Homo sapiens: one gene and its partners. The protein of the gene in region 2 purifies or fractionates together with the protein of the main gene of each other region. This does not show direct contact. Each region holds a gene or a part of one and is shown on either strand. Other genes may lie near its edges.

What was found.
Region 1: the proteins of BRPF1 (region 2) and HRG purify together in Homo sapiens (affinity purification with mass spectrometry, with the first as the bait; one large-scale study listed by BioGRID). This does not show direct contact.
Region 3: the proteins of BRPF1 (region 2) and JADE2 purify together in Homo sapiens (affinity purification with mass spectrometry, with the first as the bait; one large-scale study listed by BioGRID). This does not show direct contact.

Annotation. Positions count from the first base shown.
Region 1 is NC_000003.12:186,675,867-186,678,739, reverse strand, and holds the end of HRG (histidine-rich glycoprotein precursor), read right to left. Parts: intron 1,718-2,873; coding exon of another isoform or gene 1,694-1,717; coding exon 857-1,693; 3' UTR 506-856; downstream 1-505. UniProt on the Homo sapiens protein: Plasma glycoprotein that binds a number of ligands such as heme, heparin, heparan sulfate, thrombospondin, plasminogen, and divalent metal ions. Binds heparin and heparin/glycosaminoglycans in a zinc-dependent manner.
Region 2 is NC_000003.12:9,741,631-9,745,172, reverse strand, and holds part of BRPF1 (peregrin), read right to left. Parts: intron 3,149-3,542; coding exon 3,002-3,148; intron 2,822-3,001; exon of another isoform or gene 2,632-2,821; intron 2,230-2,631; coding exon 1,920-2,229; intron 1,596-1,919; coding exon 1,272-1,595; intron 950-1,271; coding exon 665-949; intron 166-664; coding exon 18-165; intron 1-17. UniProt on the Homo sapiens protein: Scaffold subunit of various histone acetyltransferase (HAT) complexes, such as the MOZ/MORF and HBO1 complexes, which have a histone H3 acetyltransferase activity.
Region 3 is NC_000005.10:134,532,026-134,535,677, reverse strand, and holds part of JADE2 (E3 ubiquitin-protein ligase Jade-2), read right to left. Parts: exon of another isoform or gene 2,133-3,652; coding exon of another isoform or gene 2,088-2,132; intron 1-2,087. UniProt on the Homo sapiens protein: Scaffold subunit of some HBO1 complexes, which have a histone H4 acetyltransferase activity. Acts as an E3 ubiquitin-protein ligase mediating the ubiquitination and subsequent proteasomal degradation of target protein histone demethylase KDM1A.

The DNA of each region.
Region 1 (2,873 bases), about 180 Mb from region 2:
ATCCTAGAACTGTGGCCCAACTTTGTGTGGAAAGTAGCAGGGCAGGGAAAGGGGACTCCAAGAAGGACTGGGGTTAAATTTCCACTAAGCCAGTAGGATGGCATCCTCAAATAGAAATTAATTTGTTCTGAGCATAAAGTGACATTTCTTATGCACCTGAATTTATGGTCATGATTCATGTTAGCAAGCTTCTTTGCAATTTATAGCCAGAGGTTTGTTTGCTTCAATACTGAATTTAGAACTTATTTTTCCAAAAGAAAATTTAGATGCCTAGTAATAATCACGAGGAGAGAATTTAGGTCACTTTAATAATAATAAATAGGGGGAGGGTGGGAAGCAGGAGAGCATTCGGAAAAAGAACTAGAGCATGCTGGGCTTAATACCTAGGTGATGGGTTGATAGGTGCAGCAAAGCACCATGGCATGCTTTTACCTATATAACAAACCTGCACACCCTGCACATGTGCCCTGGAACTTAGAAAATAAAATGAAATAAATGATAACAATAGTTTCAATACCATACTTTATTAGTATGCCCAGGTATAGCCCAAGCAGTAACAGAGACTCTAGAATTAGAGTTAAGTCCAGGAAAGAAGGAGATTCTGAGTGGCATAGATTTGTCTCAAGTGATGTAGTGGTGAGTGACAGAATTAACTACTAATAGGCAGCACTGAGTTCTTTCCTCTCCTTTCCATTTGATCTCTCTTCTCAGGCCATCTCTTTTCCCATTCACATTTTGCTGCATCTTCAGTATGAAAGTAGGTTGAAAAGAACTGTAATTTTCACAATTACTGGTCATTTTATTTATGTTTCTAATTCAATGTATTATTCATTTTCCTCTTCAAAGGAATCACATTTTATTTTGGAAATGTATGTGTAAAAAACATGGAAACTTGTGGAAACCCACTCTTGAACTTCCCTGGACATGATTCAGAGACTGATTGAGGAAAGGGCTGATTGTCTGGCTTTAGAGGATGTTTGTGGTGCGGCAATGGGAAGCTGGGAAAATTGGCCTCAGGAAGTGGCAGCACCTCACCTTTTCTTAGAGGAGGGAGTCGGTACACAGATCCAATTTGTCTGCAATGGAAGGGACGGGGTCCTTTACCTGGGCCTCGCCTTCTTAAGTGCCCAGGTGGTGGGCCGTGGCCATGGCAACAGTGACCTTGGTTATGGGGTGGTGGGTCACAAGGTCCATAGTCTTGGAAATCATGGCAGTGGGGATGGTGTCCATGGGGATGGTGTCCATGGGGGTGGTGTCCATGAGGATGGTGTCCATGGGGGTGGTGTCCATGGGGATGCTGTCTATGGGTATCATGTTCATGAGGATGGTGTGCATGGGGATGGTGTCCGTGGGGATGCTGTTCATGGGAATGATGCTTATGGGGATGGAGGTCACTGGAATTATTATTATGAGAATGTCTTTGGGCCCCATTTGTGCCAAAAGTGGCATGTTGACAACTTGAGCAGGACATGGGCAATAGTGGAGGAGGGCCTTGTGGAAGTGGGGGTCCATGTGAGTGATCTCTTTCATCTGGAGGAGGTGGGGGTCCATGTTCGTGTGGCTTGTGGGGATGATGATGATCTCTAGATCCATGGGGCTTGAATGGAGGCTTGGTGGTAGAAGAACGCTCATGCCCACCCCAGTGGAAGGGATGTCCCAAATGAGGCGGTACACCATTGATGTTCTCATGTTCCTGGAAAAGGTCACAGAAAAGTGCCTATCATCATGTAACATAAAAGAAGATGTTAGATACTTGACTTGATTTACACCAATGGCTCCCAGATCATAGATTCCACAAATCAATTTAAAAAGTATTACGAAAAAAGATTCTCAAATTGTTATCTAGCCCAGTTGATATTTAAAATATTAACAATAACTATCATTTACCACCATCATTGTTTCACAAAAGAAACTATTTTTTTTTTCTGAGACTGAGTCTCGCTCTGTCACCCAGTCTGGAGTGCAGTGGTGCGATCTCTGCTCATTGCAACATCCACCTCTCAGGTTCAAGCAATTCTCCTGCCTCAGCCTCCCAAGTAGCTGGGACTACACGCCCAAGCCACCATGCCCACCTAATTTTTTTTTTTCTTTTTTTGAGACATAGTCTTACTCTGTTGCCCAGACTCCTAATTTTTGTATTTTTAGTAGAGACAGGTTTCACCATGTTGAACTCCTTGTTTCAAGTAATCCACCCATCTCAGCTTCCCAAAGTGCTGGGATTACAGGCATGAGCCACCATGCCCAGCCTGGAATGAAATTTTGATTTAAAAAAAAAAGAAAGAGCCAGAAACACAATATCAGAGTAAAGGATTGTCCTTTAGATGGATAAATGTTAGATATAAAAAACTTCATTATCCTTATTTTTTTTTCATTTTTACTACACAGAGTGGTGAAACAATATTATGACCTGGCACCCATCTGTAGACCAACACTGGAAAACTAGTGCCTTATAACTGATATTCTTAACTGAGGCTTGATGGTATCAACATCCCTTACTCCTAAAGGCTGAACACTTGACCTCTTCTCTCTCTTCCTTGTTCAGAGTTTAATTTTTTAAAAAATAGCTACAGAGGCCGGGCACGGTGGCTCATGTCTGTAATCCCAGAACTTTGGGAGGCTGAGGCAGGTGGATCACCTAAGGTCAGGAGTTTGAGACCAACCTGACCAACATGGAGAAACCCCTTCTCTACTAAAAATGCAAAATTAGCCAGGTATGGTGGCGCATGCCTGTAATCCTAGCTACTCAGGAGGCTGAGGCAGGAGAATCGCTTGAACCCAGGAGGCAGAGGTTGTGGTGAGCCGAGATGGCACCATTGTATTCCAGCCTGGGCAATAAGAGCAAAACTCCTTCTCAAAAAAAAAAAAAAAAAAAA
Region 2 (3,542 bases):
ATCTGGAGGGCTGGTACCTGGTCCGGTCTGAAGCAGCGCTGCTACTGCTACTGCTGCTGGACTCAGAGTCTGAGCTGCTCCGGGGAAGGCTGCAGTCATTACGGTATACCAAGAAACTCTTCTTCACTGGTTGGTTTCCACCGCTGAAGCCATTGGCTGGTAAGTCTTGGTTGAAGGGAAGGGGAGGAGGGAAGGAACCGGTCAGGAAGATGTAGATCAGAGATGACATGGAGGTAAGAGGGACTTGGAGCTTGGGTTCCCCTTCTGTGCTGGAAAATTCCTCCAACCTTGGCCAGCAGAGCTAGCTCTGGGCAGTGTCTACCACAGTTGGCCACAGCCCTGCTCCACCCCTTGCTTCCCTCGGCAGTTACTGGCTTTAGGACACAAATGGCTTAAAGGGCAGGAGATCCCCAAGGAAGGTGAGAAGAGAAAAGGTAAAGTGATACAATGGAGGCAGGGGGCCCTGGATGGGACTTTAGCTGGGTCGTAGTGTCTCTGGGCCTCAGTTTTCCCAACTGTAAGATGAGTGAGTGGAGTTAAAGGATTCCTAAGGACCCTTCTAGCTCGCTCTTTTATGGGCAAATAAAGGGGTAACTGGGAGTATGCTGGGAAGAATGGCAGCTTTGCTCACTCTCTTGGGGGGCTGGGTGATGGTAAGGCTCACCCATTGGGGGGTCTTCTGTGGACTTATCACTGTCGCTGTCTGAGCTCGAACTGGGCCGGGGGCTCCTACCCCGCTTGCGCTGACGCAGGGAACTCATGATGGGGAGCTGGGGGGGCCCCACAGGACTGCCTCCGTGGCTGGGGGTCATCTGGCTCTCCCGGTTTTTGGGGGGCCGGCCCGGCCTCTTGGGCGGTCCAGCTGTCTTCGGGTTCTTTTTGGAGAACAGAACTGAGGTTCTCCTGCCCACCTCATGTGCGGGGGTTGAGGACATGTTGGGACCCAGGCCTGGAGCAGAGAAAGAAAGAAGGAGAGTTGGTGAGGGGCCTGATTTGAGAAGGGTAGATATCCAGGGTCATGCCCTGGGCATATAGGACCATTACTCCAGCTAACGTTGGGGAGATCATTTTAGGGGCTTGGAATTTGGAAGATTAACTCTTATACAAATAGCCAGAGAGGCAGCTAAGAGGCCCCTGATTGGGGAATGAGGGAGAAAGTACAGCTAGCTGTGTAGGAGGGACCTCTGCCTGGGGAATGGCAGGGGTTGAGTGTGTGCTGCAGAGCCAAAGTCTGACTTGCTTTGGGGTCCACCTTGCCATGGGATTCAGACCTTTGCTTGTCTCCTGGCTGCTGCTCTCCTCTGCCGCACTATCTGTCTGCCCATCCTTGTCACAGGCTGCCGGGTGGGGTGTCAGACTACCCCGGCTCGAGGGGCCATGCCGCTCAGGGCCATCACGTCCCGTCTCTCGCTGATGGGCAAGCTTCCGCCGCAGTGCCGTCATCTCTTTCTTGATCATCTTTGCACGCCGTGAGCGGCCCACACTCTGCTTGCTGGCATTCACTTCGTCCAGCCGCTCCAGAAGCAGCTTTAGCTGTTCTTCCACTGGCAGGTGCTTCTGGTTCTCCAGCAAGACCAGCCGCTCTTCCTCGGCTGCTAGGGGTAGGGTTGGAGGGGAAAGGTCAGACTCAGGGCAGCCCTCAGGGCCCCTTGAACCTGGGCAGGCAGCAAGAAACCCACTCATCCCCCCTGGGCTTCTCACCAGGAACAGCTGTAAAATAGCAGCACCAAGATGTGGAATGGCGGGCACTGCTATCCATTCACCCAGTCTGGCTTCTTGGGGAGCATTCCTGGGGATAGCTTGCCACTGCTCAGCCTAGCTGCTTTCTGCCTACACTGCCTGCTCCCAGGAGGGGACTTTTGGAAAGCTGTCCATCCCCGGCATTGGCCTCTTATATGTGTGTGTGATATATCACCCACCATCTTCAGTGTGGTGTGTGGCCTCATCTCCAGCCAGGCTGTGGGGGATATGCATGCCCGTCTCAAAGTCAATGCCCATTTTTTCTGCCTGGCGCCGGGCCTGGCGGAGCACAGCACCACCCTGCTCACGAAGCCGCACTGCTGCCCGGTAGAAGATGGTGTCCTTGGCGTTATACTTGAGGCAGTTGCTGACGATGAGGTTGAAGTCCTCCTCAAAATCATCAAAATTCAGGTAGCGGTAAGCCTCCAAGTTCTGCTTCATGGTGAAAAAGTCCATGGGCTTTTTGATGTGGTCTAGGTAGTCAGGTACCTGGAAGGGCAGGGCAGGTTTGTTTTAAGTGGAGATATCCTCCTTATTGCCCCGAACCCTGCTCCTAACAAGCCCCCCTGAAACACATCCAGCAACCTCCTCCCACCACAGTTAGAGGCAGGCATATAGCACAGGGGAAAGGAAAGCTGGATTCTGGTCCTGACTTTACCAGTCACAAGCTGTGTGACTTTGGCAAGTCTCTTAACCTCTCTGGGCCTACTTTTCCTCTCCTGGAAAATGATGAAAGTAGAGCCAAATATACTTTCTAGACTATATGAGGCTTTAGTAAGAAAATGGCTTGGGGACTCCTCTGAAAATAAACACCACCTTGCATTCCTACAGCTCTTTTTACTTAACAGTAACTTATAAGGAGGCTGCTGCCTCAGGCCTCTCATTTTATACCTTTTAGAGAGAAGAGTCTGCCAGTCAGGACCTAGGGCTTCAGAGCTGGTTCTTTAGGTGCTGAGCCTTCTAAAGTCTCCGTTCTAGGGTTCAGCACCCCGAAAGTGTCTTCCTGCCCTGGGATTATTCATTTGGCAGACTCAGTCCCTGCCTCTGGGGAAGGAGTGCAGACTGCCTCCCATTCTGGGCCCTTGGGGTGTGACAGGGACAAGACAGAGTCCAGGTGATACATGTGGCTCCAGTTCATCCTGCCCCAGAGCCACCAGCCCCTCTCTTCAAGGTCCCCATCTAGTCCTGGCCCAGACCTGCAGCAGGGGTCCAACTGGGAGAGGAACAGAGAGAAGGTGGAGTGAGGGGAAGGGATTCTTACTTCGTCCAATTCGGTTACCTCAGACAGAGGGACCGGCTCGCTGAAGATGTTGCCTGTGTCCTTCTCTTGGAGCTGCTCCAAGGTTTTGCGAAGGAGGATGAGGAAAGGAGTCAGCTGCATCTCCATGGCAATCTGCTGAACCTTGATCTAACATAGAAAAAGGCCTGATCAGCCAGGCCTCGGCCAGTTCAGTGGCAAAGAGGTCTGAGGATATGGTCCCAGCTGGCCTGGGAACCCGCCTTCTTTCCCACCCTCACAGCTGGGTGTACTCATACAGGTCTACCTTCTATGAGGCTCCACCCAGGGAAACTTGCACCAACAATTCTGGCTTCCCCCTTTCTTGAACTACCAGCACCAGCTACCTATGTCACATAACTGAGGATTCTGTTCATACGCTCCTGTGACATTCTGCTTCCAGCAGAACTAAAAGCACACCGAGCACCAGGAGACCTGACTCCAGCGTCAGCCCTGCTGCTATCTGGCTGGGGTACACACGCTATTCCTTCTCCTGGGTCTTTTTTTTTTTTTTTTTTTTGAGACG
Region 3 (3,652 bases), on a different chromosome or scaffold from region 2:
TGGGATTCTAAAAGGCTGCATCTCCCACCTCCTGAGCCCAGAGCCCTTGGTTGAGCAAGGGTCTAACCAAAGCTGTTGTAGAGGGAGAGGACATGGGGGCATCAGCAAGCCCAAACTGAATAGTGACCATGACCTGCCCAGTCCCAGCTGCCACCCAAGGACACTCAGGCCCACCACTGCAAAGGCCTCCTGAGCCACAAGTCCTCTAGGGAGGTAGGTGGGTAGAGGACAGCAAACAAGACTGATTCTTCCAGGAGGACCATGCTGTCGGAAGTTAGGGACAAGCCAGCACAGAAAACACTGAGGGCCTAGTCCTGCGAGTGGTGGTCAGCAGTGTACAGAAGCGGGGGAGAGGCGGGGGACACTCCAGGCTGGGTCCCTGAGACACATCAGGCCCAGGGTGACTGGTCCTGGGCTGGGCTACCCTGCCCTCCTACTCCCCACCATCCTTCCCAGATAAACGTACAAATAAACTCTACCTCAACTGCAACATCTAACTTCAAGGTATTAAGGACAACTCTCACATAGGGGCCTCATACTGAGCTCACGCGGAGTCTTCCTTTATCCACATCATCTCCTGTTCCTAACCAGGTGAGCTGTGAGCTCCATTTACAAGTGAGGCCAGCACCTTGTCCTGCTAGTAAGTGGCTGAGATGGGACTGAATCCATGAGGTCTGATCCCCAGGCGCATGCTGAGCTGCCTTTTTACCCTCCATCAGCTCCTGGCTGCTGAAAGTGTTTTCCCACCACTGTTTCCTATAATCCTCACGAGTCCCAGGTGGCAGAGCCTGCTCTCATCCCCTTGGAGGGGAGCACAGCAGGTGATGCGTTAACCTGCTCTGGGTCTTACAGCTCGCCTGTGGCTGAGTCCTAATGTGGGAACACATTGGGGGCTCAGGGTTCAGAGCACGCTCCCCTGTGTTCCCTGACTGACTCCCCACAGCAAAGGATAGGGAGGGAGTCTGTGTCAGTAGAGAGAAAGCCCCACTGCCCAGCCCATCTGCACCTAACTCCAGCTGCCCCCAACCCCAGTCCATTCCTGCTGAGCCCTGGGATGCCACCATCTTACTGCAGCCCTGCAGAGACTAGTGAGCATCTGCTCTCTAAGGTGGGTGTGAACACCCAGATCTCTCAGCTGACCAGGATGGCCCTCCTGCCTTGGACTTGATCTTAGCCGGGAGCTTCTCTCTACCCCAGTGCCCACCACCAGCAGGACCAGGATGGCAGGAAGGCTCATTGAGGCTGCCTGCCGCCCAGCTTCAAAGATGCCGGTAAAGTGCCCTCCAGAGGCTGAGGTTCCAAGGGACACTGGTGGTGCAAGCAGCACAAACGCAGGAACAAGGATGGCTAAGACTGCTAAGCGCTCACAGTAGCGGGAGGGGGTTCCACAGGGTCCACAGGGACCTCAACGAGTCCCTAGAGCAGCCCTTTGTTATAGGCATATATCATGGCTGCTTCCCTTTTGCAGAGGAGGAAACTGAAGCTCAGAGGTTAAGTGACCTGCCCAAGATGTCAGTGACTGTATTTGATTCAGGAGACCGTGCTCTTGACCTTCTGACTTCTCCGTCTCTGCGCAGCAGAGTACAAACAGCTCAGCAACCCACAGCTGCCACCCTCACTGCCTTCCAGAGTCTGCGTGTCAAGGGTGCGACACCTGTAATCCCAGCACTTTGGGAGGCCGGGGCTGGAGGATTTCTTGAGCCCAAGAGATCGAGACCAGCCTGGGGAACGTAGGGGGACTCATCTCTACAAAAAATTTAAAAATTAGCCAGTTGTAGTGGCACATGCCTGAGGTCCTAGCTATGCAGGAGGCTGAGGTGAGAGGATAGCTTGAGTCAGGGAGGTCAAGGCTGCAGTGAGCCATGATCGTGCCACTGCACGCCAGCCTTGGCGACAGAGTAAGACCTTATCTCAAAAAAAAAAAAAAAAAAAAAAAAAAAAGAGAGAGTGTGACAAAGGCTGACTGACAGAATCCTGACTCCTGATTCTAGCCTACGTCTTCCTCAGCTCAGCCCAGCCCAGCGCAACCCAGCTTTGTCCTGACATCGGTGGGTGGAGTGGGGGGGAGGTGCTAAAAGTGCACCCACCCATTTTCTTTTGCAATCCTGTAAGCGAATTCCATTTCTCTTCATTTCCTGCAAAGAAGGTACTTCCGAGCCAGCATCTCCCACAGTATTAAAAGCAGAAGTTGTTGATGGGTTCAAATCCTAGCTCCTCTCCTCATAGACCAGGGACCTTGGGAAAGACATACCTCCCAGAGGAGATAAACTGGAACTGGCTTTTTACATAAATGTCCTTAATTTAAAATGTTGGCAACTGAGTCAGAATTTTTACAACACTTTGAAAGGGCCAAACTAAACACATCTGTGGGCCAGAATCAGCTGGTGAGAATAAATAAGAACAGTGTAAAGCCCTCAGCACAGTGGCTAGAGATCCATATGGGTGCCAGATAGTAATACCATGGCAGCCTTGGACCAGGTCGGAAAGTCCTGGAGGAGGGGCTCCTAAAAAAGAGGCAGTGACCCTATACAGTAAGGAAGGTGCCCTCGAAAGGACTCCTTGACTGCCCAGAGACCAACAGGTGACAGCATGCAGACCTACACCCCGCACCAAGCCAATTCCCCATCTAACCCTGTCCTCCACAAAACACCCCAGAGTGCCTAGGGATTATTCTGGGTCAGGGCTGTCCCATGGGAGGCTATTATTAAGGGAGCAGATTTTGTGGTGGCTTAATTGTTATAACAACTAGGCTTGAGAAGGAAGCCACTGTTTTGTGAGTGCAGCTTCTTTCCTTTAAACCAAGTCTTCCAAAGGCCTCCTTGCTCCAGCGAGCTCCCACTGTCACAGTGGCTAATGAGGCCTGGGACCGCACTATGTCAGCTTTTTGCCCCATGGATCACCCTCCTCGCAACCTCAGCAAGAGGGACAGGGAGGACTCCTTTCCCAAAGCTGAAATCCAGGACTGCAAACACACTTGGGGGGTGGAGGTGCTTAGATGTGATCTTGGCCTCTGGTTTTTCCTTTCCACTGGCTTCCCCCATCTCCCCCAAAGCAAGGTCTGCTGTGGGAGAAGATTTCAGTGTCACAAGGCACTTGCTTTCGAGGACAGAAAGTGCTCCCGAAATCCTACCTATAAAGGAGACTTTAGGAAAGAAAAGATCTCATTTTCCTGCCATTTGCACTAGTCTATTGGCACCTCTCATGCAACCCCCAGCATGGAGACACAGGTAGGAAGCTCTCCTTCAAAGTGTGGGTGTCGTAGAGTCCCCTCAATGAAGCAAAAGCCCACAGCCTCTCTGTATCCTCGGCCCCACCAAGTCCACTAGGCTTTGCCTCCAGAACACACCCACTTTCTTCCTACTATCACCACACTGGTCCAAGCCAATCTCATCTCTTGCCTGAACCACTTGTTCATCTCCCAGCTTCCAGTATCAATTCACCCATGTCCAGGCTCCACACAGCTGCCAGAGTGATGTTTAAAAAGCATAAATCAGTCGGGGTGCGGTGACTCACACCTGTAATCCCAGCACTTATGGAGGCCAAAGCAGGTGGCTCACTTGAGCTTAGGAGTTCAAGATCAGTCTGGGCAACATGGCAAATCCCCGACTCTATGAAAAATACAAAAGTTAGCTGGGCATGGTGGCGTGTGCCT